2 linked regions of the Homo sapiens genome follow. The protein of the gene in region 1 interacts with the protein of each later gene in a pairwise test. Each region holds a gene or a part of one and is shown on either strand. Other genes may lie near its edges.

The links. Proteins that work in one complex are often made in the same cells at the same time.
Region 2: the proteins of SNX18 (region 1) and PTPN21 interact in binary tests that used the Homo sapiens proteins (3 or more experiments, as listed by UniProt).

What each region holds. Positions count from the first base shown.
Region 1 is NC_000005.10:54,520,282-54,528,112, reverse strand, and holds part of SNX18 (sorting nexin-18), read right to left. Parts: exon of another isoform or gene 7,067-7,831; intron 1-7,066.
Region 2 is NC_000014.9:88,545,008-88,552,007, forward strand, and holds part of PTPN21 (tyrosine-protein phosphatase non-receptor type 21), read right to left. Parts: intron 6,546-7,000; exon of another isoform or gene 6,229-6,545; intron 5,613-6,228; 5' UTR 5,411-5,612; coding exon 5,231-5,410; intron 1-5,230.

The DNA of each region.
Region 1 (7,831 bases):
AACACCAAGAATCAATATAAAGTGAAATCATGAGGTATACAATATTAATTCTCTGGCACTTTAAGCATTTTCAAACTTCCCCTCCCCTCCCCAATGAATTATGTAAAGTCATTTCATAAACACAAAACTCTAAGACTTTTAAATCACTCACATGTTAATGACTTCATCCATAAAATACATCTAGATTCTATCTTTATTTCCTGTACACTTTAGACTGTTATCCATCATCATATAAATGGAAAAACAAAAACATCTTATAAATCTATTTCAAGATCAACCAAGTAGCTACTGAGTGCCTACTTCATTAATTCAGCAAGCATTCATTAAGTACTTGCTATGCATGTATAAAACAGTAGTTAACAGCTATACAACACAGGAACATAAAAACATAACCCACACACTAATAACTGAGCACCGCACAGACAATTATTCACAAAAGGACTACAATCCAAGGGGGATACTCCAAGGAAGGGGACTAGACCTGAAGCTAGAAAGTGCTTGTGTTGGGGTGGGGAGACATGGAGCAGAATGCATGAGCCTGATCTACCTAAAAGGAGAAAACTCAATTCCTGATTGCTGCTCCCCACCCCTGTTCTGACAATTCTTATTGTAGGCCAGGCCAAACAGGCCAAAATTACAGTCACCCTTGATGACTCCCCTTTCTCTTGCATGTCACATCCTTCACAATCCCATCTCTCAGGAAAACCTGTTGATTCTACCTCCAAAATATAGCTGGAGGGGGACCCCCCCCCCCGGCTCCCCGACCACCACCTCTGTTGTCTCCACTCTGGTCCAGGCCACCAGCATCTCTCACCTGGATTACTGGAGTATTTCCTACTAGCTCCCTGCTTCCATCCACCTTTGACTGCCACACGCCATTCTATTCTCATTGCTCTGGACTAAGTCTGTTAATATGTCCAGTTGGATGTCATACCTTGGCTCAAAATCCTGTAATTGCTTCCATCTGACTCGGGCTTTCATTCCAAGTCCTAACAGTGACCTGCAAAGCCTTGCAAATCTGACTTTCCATGACCTCATCTCCTAGGATCCTCTTAACTTCAACCACCTGGCCTTGCTGTTCCTCAACCTGCCTGGCACATGTCCACCCCAGGGCCTTACTTTAGCTAAACCCTCTGCCTGAAAAGCTCTCCCCCGAGATACCTGCTTGGACGACTCTCCTGACTCCAGAGTGATTCAGGTCTCTGCTTAAATCTCACTTTCTCAATGAGACCTACTTTGAGCACTCTTACTAGTACTTCATCCTGCCTCCCATGCCCTCTTTCCCTGCTCTACTGTTTTCTCCTAGCACATACCAAACTCCAACATACATCAAAACTTACCTCCTGTGTTTGTTTTTCATTGAGTGTCTCCACCCTGCTAGACTGCAAGCTCCACAAGGGTGGGGATCTTTGTTTTGGCCACTGATGCAACACTAGCATCTTGAATAGTGCCTGGACGATGATGGGTACATACGTATTTGTTGAATAAAATCTAGTTTATCTTTTAGAGGGTCCTATGAATAAATCTAATGATTTTATCTCCCCTTCCTTCACTGTCCCCTTACCTGCTAAATAACAATTTATTTAGCAGAAGAGGAAAGTCAAATCACAGTGACAGATAAGTCATAAGAAAAGGTACAGAAATGACAAGTGAACTAAAACTCATTCAAATTAAAGTTTAATCAAGCTATAAGATCAATATCAGAGGCTGGGCACGGTGGCTCACACCTGTAATCCCAGCACTTTGGAAGGCCAAGGTGGGTAGATTGCTTGAGGTCAGGAGTTCAAGACCAGCCTGGCCAATATAGTGAAACCCCGTCTCTACTAAAAAAAATAAAAAAGTTAGCCAAGCATGGTGGCACATGCCTGTAATCCCAGTTACTCGGGCGGCTGAGGCAGGAGAATCATTTGAACTCGCGAGGCAGAGGTTGCAGTGAGCCGAGATCGCATCACTGCACTGCAGCCTAGGTGACAGAGCAAGACTCCATCTTTAAAAAACTGTCATAATTTATCTCTTTGGTAGTCCTATTAATTTGGGTCAGAGAGAAGTCGCTCCAGCTGTCTACCATACCACAGCTTCAGAACACCCGGGAACCCTCACCAGGCAGCAGCAGGCCAGGTATTAATCACTTTTACATTCGAAGTTCCTAGTGAGGTAAGCCTGCAATGCGTGATTGCTGATCTGAACTAAACGTGCATAAATGTTCTTTCACATCAACTGATAAGGGCTTTTCATGCTCCCGTAAAACAGTCACATAAGTAGACAGAGAACACTATTAAAATCAGCCTGAAACAATGTCTAAAAGTTTCCTGGATACTTAAGACTACTCTTATTTTTTTAAAAAAGTCAACTAACAAAATAGTACCTAGGAAATAATGAACCTCACTTTTACAGATGAGGAAACTGAAGCTCAGAAACATTAAGTGATCTGCACCAGAACACGTGATTTGGGTTAGAGGGGAGCCAGGAGGAGACAGTTTACATACACTCTTCAATGTGAACAACAACAAACGATTGACTCCAAACAACATCTACATTTATCCCAGTTGCCATTACTTCCGGTGTGCAATACAGGGCGAACTGATTAAAGCAGATATTTAATTGCTAGACTGAAGACTCCTTGAGCTTTTGTACTTTTGCCTACAATTCTGGTGGCAATAGGTTGCCAGGAGGGATGATAAGATTACTGGAATTGTCCTTCAAAGGAGAGCGCCCTTAATTTTTTTTTTTTTTTTAAAGAGACAAGGTCTCACTGTGTTGCTCTGGCTGGATTTGAACTCTTGGGCTCAAGTGATTCTCCTCCCTCAGCCTCTCAAGTAGCTGGTATTAAAGCCATGTGCCACCATGCCTGGTTGTCATCTCCTTTTAAATTCACCCATCTATTTTTCAAAAATAAACATTTAGTGACTAGCTACTATGAACTATAACATTTAATTCTCATGCTGACCTCGTGAGGAAGTGCCCCCACTTGGCCAAAGATAAGTGAGCGTTACGCAGGTTAAAATAGCTTGTCCAAAACTCCTCCATGCCCACACACTGGCCCTCCAGAGCCCATGCTGGTCCCGACAGGCCAGCTCCCACTGCGATGAGGCTCTGCACCCACGGCTTCTTGGCTTGGCATGCTGCCCCTTCACTGGCACAGCTTCCTCAGCAGACCCAGCTCAGTCCCACCCCTTGGTGCAACTCCTGGGGCAGACTGGCCCATCCACCAGGCTCTCAGAATCCTGGCACAAGGAACTGCCGAGGCTGGCTGACCTGTCTCTGTAGCTAGTCAAATAACTCACTTAAGACCAGAGGCCTACCCAGCCCTCCTGCAGACACCGGCAGAGCGGCCAGATTCTAGTCTGTGTTGTATAAATATGAGACATGATACACGTCTGCCTTCCGGATATAATCTTGTCAAACAGAGCTCAGCATTACTCTGCCACTTTATAATCCTTTAGTTAATGATACAGAGCTTCAAAAATATATGGCAAATTAAATCTAACTTGATATTTAAACTTTGATTTAAAAATACATGGGGTAATACAATAATAGTTTTTTATTCAGCCCAAAGAGAAGGAACATATTAAATAGTTCAAGGGAAGTGTTTGTAAGTGAATCACAGAACTTCTCACTTGTTTGGGTTCTGGCATTATGCTTAGAAGTCCTAAGATGGCCAGACAGGACAACATTGCTGAACAAGGAAACCTCATAGGCTCCCTGAGTTACTGGGAGGAGGGTGGGAGTGCAGGTCCTCTGCCTCCCTTCGGTCCCACTGTGGTCGGCATGACTCTGAAGGCTATGTGGCTCAAAAAAGAAGTCTGAGAAACCCCTGACGGTGTGGTATGAGCGGTGCCCACACCCAGTTTCGTGCCCAAGACTGTCCTTGGGCAGTCACATTTATATTTTAACCAAGGAACTGAGTCGTGTATTTCGAAAGCACCAACGGTCACCTTATTTTCACTAAGAAAACACAAACTGGGGCAAAGGGTAAGCCCCAGACCTGTTCTCTTTTTAGAGACATGAGGTCTTTTTAGAGAACAGCTGGGGGTAAATGCAGGGGAGAGGAGAAATGGGTTCAACTAAAGATGGAGTGAAAACAAAAAGAATGAACAGCCTCAATTTCTAGCCCAGAGGTTTCAAAAATAAGGATGAATTTGCAAACAGCCCCAACTTCTTAGAGCTTTTCTCTGTATTCCTGGCACCACCCTTTCAGGGCTATTTTTAGCTACAGGAGAATGGGGAGCAGACAGGGAAGGGTCTCCGTGTGGCCCAGCCTTACCTTGTGTGCCCTGCTGGGACTCCAGCTATCTTTAATTAATGTCTGAAGGACATCAGGCCAACTCTACTAGTGGTAAAAGGAAGCACAATGGTGAAATTCTACCCAGCAAGACTGACAGGCCCACTACTGGTATACCATTCCTGAGGTCCTGGGGCTTTTATTGAAAAAAGGCTCCATCTGGAACATTTAGAGAGCGATGAAGTAGAGTCTGTATATTTAAGAGTACAGAAAACAGGACTGCCTATTTACTTATCTAGTCCTGCCTCCCTGCTTCACACAGCCCAAATCGACAAATCAATTTAACACTATTTTACACCTTTTCTCTAGAAGAAAGACATTTCACTTAAAGGAACTCCCTCTAGCCATTTTTATTTAGTCCAAATTCCTAAACAAGGATGAAACCAGTATTTCTCATAATCTTTTACAGTCTTCCTTTTAGCAATAGTCGCAAGAGGTAAACCTAAATCTTTTAAACCTCAACTTGCTGCCACCTAGATTTAGCTTTATTAAATATTAGAGATTGATCATATCTTTGGAAACAAAACTGAATATGCCAAGAAACTAATAATAAAATATATTCCTCAGTACTACCCAAACTCCTCAACATCAACACTATAAAGGTATACTGCAGACAGGCATGATAAGGAGGGAGAAGATAAAATGCTATCACTTAAGAAAAAAAAAATCAAGACCACAGGGGTTACATGTCAGTGACAAACATCTGCACACTGCCTAGTCAGGGATTGATGAGCTACCTATGAACAAAGAACTTAAAGGACTCCTATTAGGTCAAAGCAAAACACAAATAAAATTCCAATAGATTCTGAATTCCCATCTAATGTACCGCAGACTACAGCAAACTACCGTCTTTCTTCGCTCAACTCCATTAACCTAAATAGTTAGACTCCATCCGTTGATGAAAAAAAATCAAAATTCCAGAATTCTCTTTTGGCTGAAGGAAGTATATCGCTTTCTTCACTTCTGCAGAAAGTATGTACACTAAAACCATTATTAGTTTAAAGAATGGGTTCAGTATTTAGTATAGTCAGGAAAATTTCAGCCCACCAACATTTAAGAGTATTTGAGTTTTCCACCCTCATTTTGCAGCTGGGTTCTCACCAGGATGGCCTCAGACATCCATCCCGTAACCAATGTGTTTTCTGAATGGGACATAAAGGCACACTGCAAGAGATGCTCACGCTACTGAAATGTCACTCAGGTTGAGTGCTTGGGAAATTCAGCAAAGAAGAATCTAGCAGGACTTGCTTCCCCCTTCCCAGTTTTTATTAATTAAGCCTATATGGGAAGGAGGAGGTGCAATGAGATGACCAAGTAAAAATAAAGCTATCAGGAAACTATATTAAAATATAATAATTTGCTGGAGAAACTTACGATGGGGTTGATAGTTAAACTGCAGCCAGCAGTTTAACACAGCACTGTCCAATAGAACTTTCAGCACTGATGGAAAAGTTCTATCATTTCTGTTGACCAATATTCAGTTCCTTAGTCACATTAGCCATATTTCAAGTGTGTAACAGTTGGGGTTGGGGAGGTGACGGAATTGAGATGCTCTTTACAACCACAAGTCCTGAATACGCTCAGAAAGCTTTTATCCTGGCTTATGATGTTTGTCTCATCTATACTCCTAAAAATGGCCTACACTAGCATCCTTGATAAACACTGGTTATAGGCAAATGCTTTTAGCCTTATGTATCGCACACTGTCACTTTAAATGGTAGTATTTTCTAAAGATGTGTCATCCAGGGACACAGGTTCACTGTACATTACACACCAAGGTTACAGCAGAAACAAACTATACTGAATATCAACTGCTGTTCTTTCCAAAGTTCCTAGAGATTATGTTTAGTGCTCTTGAATCTGTTAAGCCACATAAAATGATACTGGTTTTAATGAAGGAAGTTTTTCAAATCCCAAGTGACTAGAGACAAATCCAGTTCTATAATTTAAAAAAGATAAACTAGGCCGGGCATGGTGGTTCACGCTTGTAATCCCAGCACTTCGGGAGGCTGAGCTGGAAGGATTGCTTGAGCCCAAGAGTTAGAGACAAGCCTGGGCAACATAGCAAGACACCTGTCTCTACAAAATAAATAAAGAAGTAAATAAGCTATATATTTTTTGTTTTGGACACAGGGTCTTGCTCTGTCACCCAAGCTGGAGGGCAATGGTTCAATTATGCCTCACTGCAACCTCAAATTAACTCCTAGCCTCAAGCAATCCTCCAGCCTCAGCCTCCCTAGTAGCTAGGACTATAGGTATGAGCCACCATGCCACGCTAACTTCTTTATTTTTTGTAGACAAGGGAGTCTCCCTATGTTGCCCAGGCTGGTCTCGAACTCCTGGCCTTAAGGCAATCCTCCTGCCTCGACCTCCCAAAATGCTGGGATTACAGGCGTGACCCTGGCCATAACCAGATGGTTTAATAGACTAAGTAGACCATTGCTGTAAACTCAAAATAGATATTAGAACACACACCATACCTTTTCTAATATATAATTTCAAAAGCAGGCCATTTGACAAAGCCTGAGTGCATGGTGTGATTGACAGTGAATGAACTGATGCCAACCTAAAGTAGACAGACACCAGCGGCCCAGCACACATGTCCAAGTGTCTGTACTTGGTTCCATCCTTTCAACTGTTCACCAGTAATTTGCACAAACTCACAGAAATGTGTAAAAGGGCAGCCAGCATAGGTCCAGAATGATGTAACACAATGGAATTTAAATGCTAAATCCCTCCATTAAAGGCTCACAAAGGCAGTTCCACCAACACCAGTCAAAAAAGTCAAAGATTCATAACAATTTATGTTTTAAAAAAAGGCATAGGTAATGTAAATACAGGTTTAATACAGGCCAACAGCAATATGATTGCACAAAAAACGAATTCAATATTAGACTGCATTTACAAATCGCAAATTGCCAAGAAAGTTACTACTGTCTACTAAAATTAGTACTGATGTCCAGGGTACTCCCTTTCAGCGGCAGCAACAAGACTGAAAACGTTTGATCATTCTCCCAGCAAGCCCCTTCCCCCATAGGAGTCAGAAGACCAGTCACGCATTTGGAAGGGGAAGGAGAGAAGCAGAGAGGAAGGAAGCGAGACTGCTGTCTCCAAATGTCTGAAGGCGGTCCCAGGGAACAGAAAGACAATCAAGGGAGGCAAACTTCAGTTCAATACAAGAAAAGACATGCCAGAGATCAGGGTTGCTCATAAACGGACTGGCCCACCAGAAAGGCAGTGAGCACTTCACCAGTAAAGGCCAGACCCGCTGAGGAAACAGGGACAGTAGGTTTCCCTGCTCAGGAGTAGGTTTCCCTGCCCAGCCGCCCCTACACTGGACTTTCACAGGCAAGACTGCCTCCCTAACTCCCACACCTCCCCATTCTCTCAATCAAGGCATTATATGAGAATGCACATTAGTAAGAAATGTTAAGACAAGCACTACTGCTATATATTTTTTTAATTTGCAAATTCTGGTGCTTTAGCAAAGGTCAGAGACACTAACAACTATTAATAACTCATGAACTCTGATAGTTGGACAGCTAACTC
Region 2 (7,000 bases), on another chromosome or scaffold:
TTAGTAGAGATGGGGTTTCACCATGTTGGCCAGGCCAGGCTGGTCTTGAACTCCTGACCTCAGGTGATCTGCCCACCTCGGCCTCCCAAAGTGCTGGGATTACACGCGTGAGCCACCGCGCCTGGCCGACTTATGAAAATATCTACTTTTTCAAGGTAACATTCTTCTGATTCCATGTTCACCAAGAAACTTCTGGTTTGTTCTGGTTCCCATGTGCCCTAACTATAGGAAAATCTTGGCCTAGGCAGAGGGCACACATACCTGGGACCCTTGGCAGTTCCTTACTGCTTATAAATTACTAAACTTGGGTCCTGGTTTTACACATCATTTTTAGCGAGCTAGATTAAATCAGGTCTTCCCATGACATGAGATTTTTGAGCCTGACTCTTGCACTCTGGATTGTGCTGATTCCGTCAAGGTGATGCCCCAGGCAGTGCCCATGCCCAGGTGGCCACTTGTGTCACCACCTCCTTCAAGCCTCTACAGCATATGCTTTTAAAATTGGAGAAAATTTTCTAGCTCCCCTTAAATTCCACAAGGACTCACAGCCTCTCTTGAAAAAATGTTTTGAAACTCAGAAGAATGATAGGCAGGGAATTTCAACAGCTTTGAGAAACTACTGCTATAACGAACAGCAATATTTTCCTAAGGGAATAATTCATTTTCCCATTTTTAAAAGTTACTTTGGCTCACGCCTGTAATCCCAGCACTTTGGGAGACCGAGGCAGACGGATCATGAGGTCAGGAGATCGAGACCATCCTGGCTAACACGGTGAAACCCCATCTCTACTAAAAATACAAAATTAGCCGGGCGTGGTGGCATGCGCCTATAGTCCCAGTTACTTGGGAGGCTGAGACAGAAGAATGGCATGAACCTGGGAGACTGAGACAGGAGAATGGCATGAACCTGGGAGACGGAGGTTGCAGTGAGCCGAGATCGCGCCACTGCACTCCAGCCTGGGCGATAGAGCGAGACTCTGTCTCAAATAAAAAAAAAAAAAAAAAAAAAGAAGTTACTTTCTGTAGTTCAAATATGGTGAATTTAAAAGAAAGTTAGCAACCTAAGTTAACTACATTGGATACATGTATATTAACCACGTTGCTTTTAATTTAATACAAAATATCTTAGACACTTGTAAAAATATGACAGCTAAAAATACAAACAAAAAAAATACCCATATACCCAGTGTAAGAAACACTACTGATATAGCTGAAACCCCTGGGTATAGTGTTATACTATTGTGCGGCCCTTGTAACTGTCATTATAGGCCCGGGCACGTTGGCTCACTCCTGTAATCCCAGCACTTTGGGAGGCCAAGGTGGACAGATCACCTGAGGTCAGGAGTTCAAGACCAGCCTGGCCAACATGATAAAACCCCATCTCTACTTAAAAAAAAAAAAAATACAAAAATACAAAAATTAGCCGGGCATGGTGGTAGGCACCTGTAATCCCAGCTACTGGGGAGGCTAAGGCAGGAGAATCGCTTGGACCCGGGAGGCAGAGGTTGCAGTGAACCGAGATCGCGCCATTGTACTCCAGCCTGGGCAAAAGAGTGAAACTCCATCTCAAAAAAAAAAAAAAAAAAAATTGTCATTATAGAAGTGAAATGGTATTCAATTAAGCAAGAGGGACTTTTCCCTCCATTTATATTTGGACAGTAGCAAAGTTTTCCACCCAAATCTATATGCGATAATTCCAGATTTGCTTGGTGGGAGAACAGTGCAAGAAACCAACATACTGATATTTCTTGGTATGAATCACACAGAGACTATATGTACAAACTAGAAACAGGTGTGACCCCACTCAGATTATTTCTGAACAGTCATTTGTTAAGATTAGGCCTGATGCCTGAGCCATCTGTTTATATGCTACAGAGCAGAGCTTCTGGGGCTTTCAAAGAAAAAGTTTGCTATACAAACTTTCTACCCATGACTGTTACATTTATGTTGGAAATTGTGGGACAGACTCTCCACAGGCAAAACATTTTCTAGGGACCATGCCTGTTTCCTCTTCTGTTAAAAATCAGGCTCAAAATATACCCACAGCTATATAAAGTTACTTGTTCCCTGAGACTGATAACTTCTAACAAGGGATGGCAATTTCTCTGGACTTATTAACAGAAGGAAGGCAATGCCTGTGGGTTCAGTTCTCCCTGTATTTACTGAACACATTCCACACCTGGTATAAAAATAAATAAACCACAGTTCCTCAAGAAGCTGACTCTCTAGGCGTTATAGACAGACCTGGTGCACGAGGAAGAAAATTACAGGAAGAAGAAACCATAATAGGAAAAAAAAAAAAAAAGTCGAAGCAACCAAAGTAAATAAATAAATAAATAAATAGAATATAAGCCACTAAGCCAGGCAAGGTGGCACACGCCTGTAATCCCACCTACTCACAAAGTTGAGGCAGGAAGATAACTAGAGGAAACAACTCCCAGACCAGCCTGGGCGACATAGCAAGACTCCATCTCAAAAACACAAGTTAAAAAAAAAATTAGCTGGGTGTGGTGGAGTGTACCTGTAGTCCCAGCTCTTGGCAGGCTAAGGCAAAAGGATCACTTGAGCCTAGGTGTTTGAGGATGCATTGAGCTATGACGGTGCCACTGTACTCCAGCCTGGGTGATGGAGTGAGACCTCATCCCTAAAAAAGAATAAATGCAAGTAAGCAGGGACTGGTTACTGAGGCCTGCTGTTCTGGTTTTCTTTCTTCTTCTTCGGCAGTTTCATCTCAGTTTCCTTCCAACACTTTCCCCTCCTCTAATCTACCATGAGGGGTCTGCGATGTCCTCTTTTTCTCCCCTGGAGAGCCTCATACCATCTTCTGGCTTTAATGAACTCACTTAGGCTGATACTTCCCAATATCTTCCCTCTAACCTGGATCTCATGCCTGAACTCCAGATCAGCAGATCCATCTGTCTATTCAAAACCTCCAACTGGCACCTCAAACTCAGTATTTCTAAAACTGAACTCACCACACGCTCCTCCTTGCCCCTAATAGATCTGCACTTCCTTTCACATTTCCTCTCTGTTATAGCCCCACCATCTACTGAAAACCTGAATATCAACCAGGACCCATGCTAACCCTTCTCTATTACTCGGTAGGTCCTGATCCAGATTCCAACCACCTCTCTCCAACCCTATCCAACTCCAGGTGGCTACCATCTGTACCTGAACCACTCCCCTCAAATCATTCTCCAAAGGGCTCACTCTTCACAGAAACAATCGTACCACACCTGTTTACACCCTTCATTAACTTCCCCACTACCCTCAGGATAAATCTAAATCCTTTAACAAAAAATCCTCATTGTGTGGCCCTTACAGTCGGCCTTTCCTCCACGCACTTCAGGCTTCAGGCAGACCAGCTTCCTCTGCGTCTTTGGTCCTGTGCAGTTCTCTTTGTTGGAACTCCTCCAGCCCTTGATAGGACTCCCTTGCCCCATCCTCAGGTCACAGCTCAGAATCAAATTCCCTGAGCAGCCTTCCCTTTGCTGCACCTCCCTCTGGCCTATAGCACACCCTCTACTTCCCTTATCACAGCATGCATCATGCCTGTTTTCTTACTGGCAACAACACTAGGGTGAGCTTCCAAGTATGTATGTGCTTGGCACTTACGCATCTTCAGTACTGAGTGATCATATAAGTGATTGGATGGTCACCAGGAGCAAAGTTCATCTATTCCTGACTTTTTAGGTGGAATAACCAGTTTCTCTAACTTTCCCTTACCCAAGAACCAGGTAGCCAAAGGTAGGGAGGGTCCTAGGTTTAATTAGAGACCTTTCTTCACAGGCCTTGCATAACATTTTAAATTTAAGACATTATATGGATACATGAGTACTCCATAACTTCCTACCAACTAGATTAGGGGTTTCCTGGGCAAACCTCCCAATCGGTACTCTAATAGACTAGTTAGCAGAGCTTACAACCTTATGCTACTCTGAGAATTAGGTGTCACAGTCATCCCCATGGTTCAGATGGAGAACTGGGGCTCAGAGATATCACATAACTTGCCCAAGGTAACAGAAGCAGATGGTGAGGAAACTAGAACTCAAACTGAGTTCAGGCAGTATGTTTCTAGAACCTCGATCTGGCCTGTAAGAATATAGTCAATGAATTTTACTCAATGAATGTTGAAAGAACGAAGTCAAGAGCCGGACATGGTGGCACATGCCTATCGCGGGAGGATCGCTTGAGCCTAGGAATTTGAGACCAACCTGGGCAACATAGCTAGACCTACCTTGACTCTAAAAAAATTAAAATGAACAAAAAAGAAAGAATGAAGTCAGTAAACTGTACTAGAGATCAGGATGACCTTTGGGGGTATATTAGAAAATGGAAATTTGAACAACCCAAAGTGTATTCACATTTGATTCTGGATTACCTTAGAGGGGGAATATAAACATATTCAAAATAAGAACCATTAGTTCTTATAGGGCACCCCAAGGGGAGACTTCTTAATCTAATCTATTCCTGCTTCATGAGGAGGGGACTACAGGCTCAACTCAGACATCCCAGCCAGGGACACACAGTGAGTGGCCCGTGGGCTAGAACACACAGCCAGCATGCGGGCCAGAGAAGCCTGTCGTGTTTTTTTTATTTATTTTTAATTTTTTTTGAGACAGAGTTTGTTGCCCAGGCTGGAGTGCAGTGCTGTGATCTCAGCTCACTGCAACCTCCACCTCCTGGGTACAAGTGATTCTCCTGCCTCAGCCTCCCCAGTAGCTGCGATTACAGGCACCCACCACCACGCCCAGCCAATTTTTTTTTTTTTTTGAGCAGGTGTCTCGCTCTGTAGCCCAGGCTGGAGTGCAGTGGAGCGATCTCGGCTCACTGCAGCCTCTGCCTCCCACATTCAAGCGATTCTCCTGTCTCAGCCTCCCGAGTAGGTAGGATGACAGGTGCCCGCCACCACACCCTACAGGCGCCCACCACCACGTCCGGCTAATTTTTGTATTTTTAGTAGACATGGGGTTTCACCATATTGGCCAGGCTGGTCTCGAACTCCTGACCTTGTGATTCGCCCGCCTCGGCCTCCCAAAGTGCTGGGATTACAGGTGTGAGCCACTGCGCCCGGCCTTGTATTTTTAGTAGAGACAGGGTTTCACCATGTTGGCCAGGCTAGGCTCGAACTCCTGACCTCAGGTGATCCACCAGCCTCGGCCTCTCAAAGTGCTGGGATTACAGGCTTGAGCCACCCGCGCCTGGCCTGCAGTGTCTTTAGGTGGCTTACCTCCCGCAGCTCCAGCCTCTGGGCCACGGCCTCGAGGCTTTCCTGGCCAGTGCTCTCCACGGACAGGGTGAACTCCACAAACTCGTTATTAAGCAGTTGGATCCGGGCAACCAGGCAACTCTTGCTGGACACCGTGTAGCGCCGGGTGCGTTTCAGTTTCAACCCAAATGGCAGTGGCATCTTCTTCTTTCTTCAAGAATGGAGGAGCAAAGAGGGAAAAGCTACCCCCACCAACCCAGCGCTGGTGACGCCAGGAGAAAGCGATCCTCTCCGGATGGGACGAACACTGTCCGGCCTCCAGCTGCTCACCCAGCAGCCGCTGCCGCCATTAAAAAGCAACGGAGTCTCCAATGGCCCGAGGAAGGGAGCATTGACGCCAGCGCTGGGGAAAGAGGAACGCCGTTAGTTAAGCAAACGTAACGCTGGGCTTTGCTTGTATAAAGAAAAGCCAGTCAAGCTGTGGCCAAAGAACAAGCCGTCCCTCTCCACTGGAAAAAAGGCACTAACAGGACCCGGAAGGCAGGGTGGAATTTTATCTCAGAGTTGTGCTAGGCTCAGGGTCAGACTCCACCCTTCACTGTATCCTACAAATAGGGATAGCAAACTGGGCCATCCTCAGGATTAAATGAGATAATAGCCAGCACTACTATAATCCCAAATTTTGTAGTTAGTAATTGTGATCCTCTTCCTATTTTGGATAAGGTGTTGTTTTTTCATAGGTAACTCTTTCAGGTTGTAATACTCCAAATGTCAGAGTTCTTTAGTCCTTAAGTGAGAAAAGTGCCAAATGGCCCCAAAAGAGCTAGGTTTCAGTCCCAATCCCTTTAGAAAATTAACCCTGAAGGCAAATGGGAGGAATAATCCCCACTAAGAAAGGCAGGTGTGTGATTCAAACCCGGTGAGGTGCCTAACAAGCGCTTGTGGAAGTATTTACGTCATCAAATTGATTTACTGATAAACATCATAAAAGACCCTACAAATGCTCGTTATCCATTTACCACTAGAAGAGTGGCAGTTCTGAAAATCCAGACCCCGGCCCCTCTCCAGGGTGGGGACGCCCAAACAGGCCTTCACCTAAGCGGAGCCGCGGCCCAGAAGGGGAGGCGGGCGAGGTCTTCCACGCCATCCTGAGTTAATGAGCGGCCGGAGGCAACAAACCCAAGAAGCCCACGGGGCCTTGGAGCACTCAGGCCCCGGCTTCTCCCGCGTCCTCCCCTTGGGAAGAGCACGCGGCGTTGCCAGGCCAACCAGTAGACTCGGAGGCCCCGGAACCCTCTTTCTGCAGCCGCGTTTCTGGACGGACGCGCTCTAAAAGGACCGGTCCCTCGGCTCCCGAAGGGAACATTTAAAGGGACCAGCGCGTGCCCTACTGGCGGTGGAGAGGTTGGGCGGGCCCCATAGGATGCCCGCTTTGGAGCCACAGGACCTCAAAATACGCTCCTTACAACGTGTTTTATAGAGCGAAGTCTCGCTATGCCACCCAGGCTGGAGTGCAGTGGCGCCATCGTAGCTCACCGCAGCCTCGAACACCTGGGCTCAAGCGATCCTCCCGCCTCAACCTCCCGAGTAGCTGGGACCACAGGTGCGCGCCACCAAGCCGGGCTCTAACAGTTTTTAACCAGACCTGTTGATGGTTTCTGGGGCGAGCACTAGCTGGGGATTTTTATATCAGCTGGATTAGTTTTTTCCCCCTAAACGAGTCTACAAAATCCCGGACATTTCCAGGGTCCTGAGACGGTTCCCTACCTTCCTTCTGCGCAGAGATTGCCT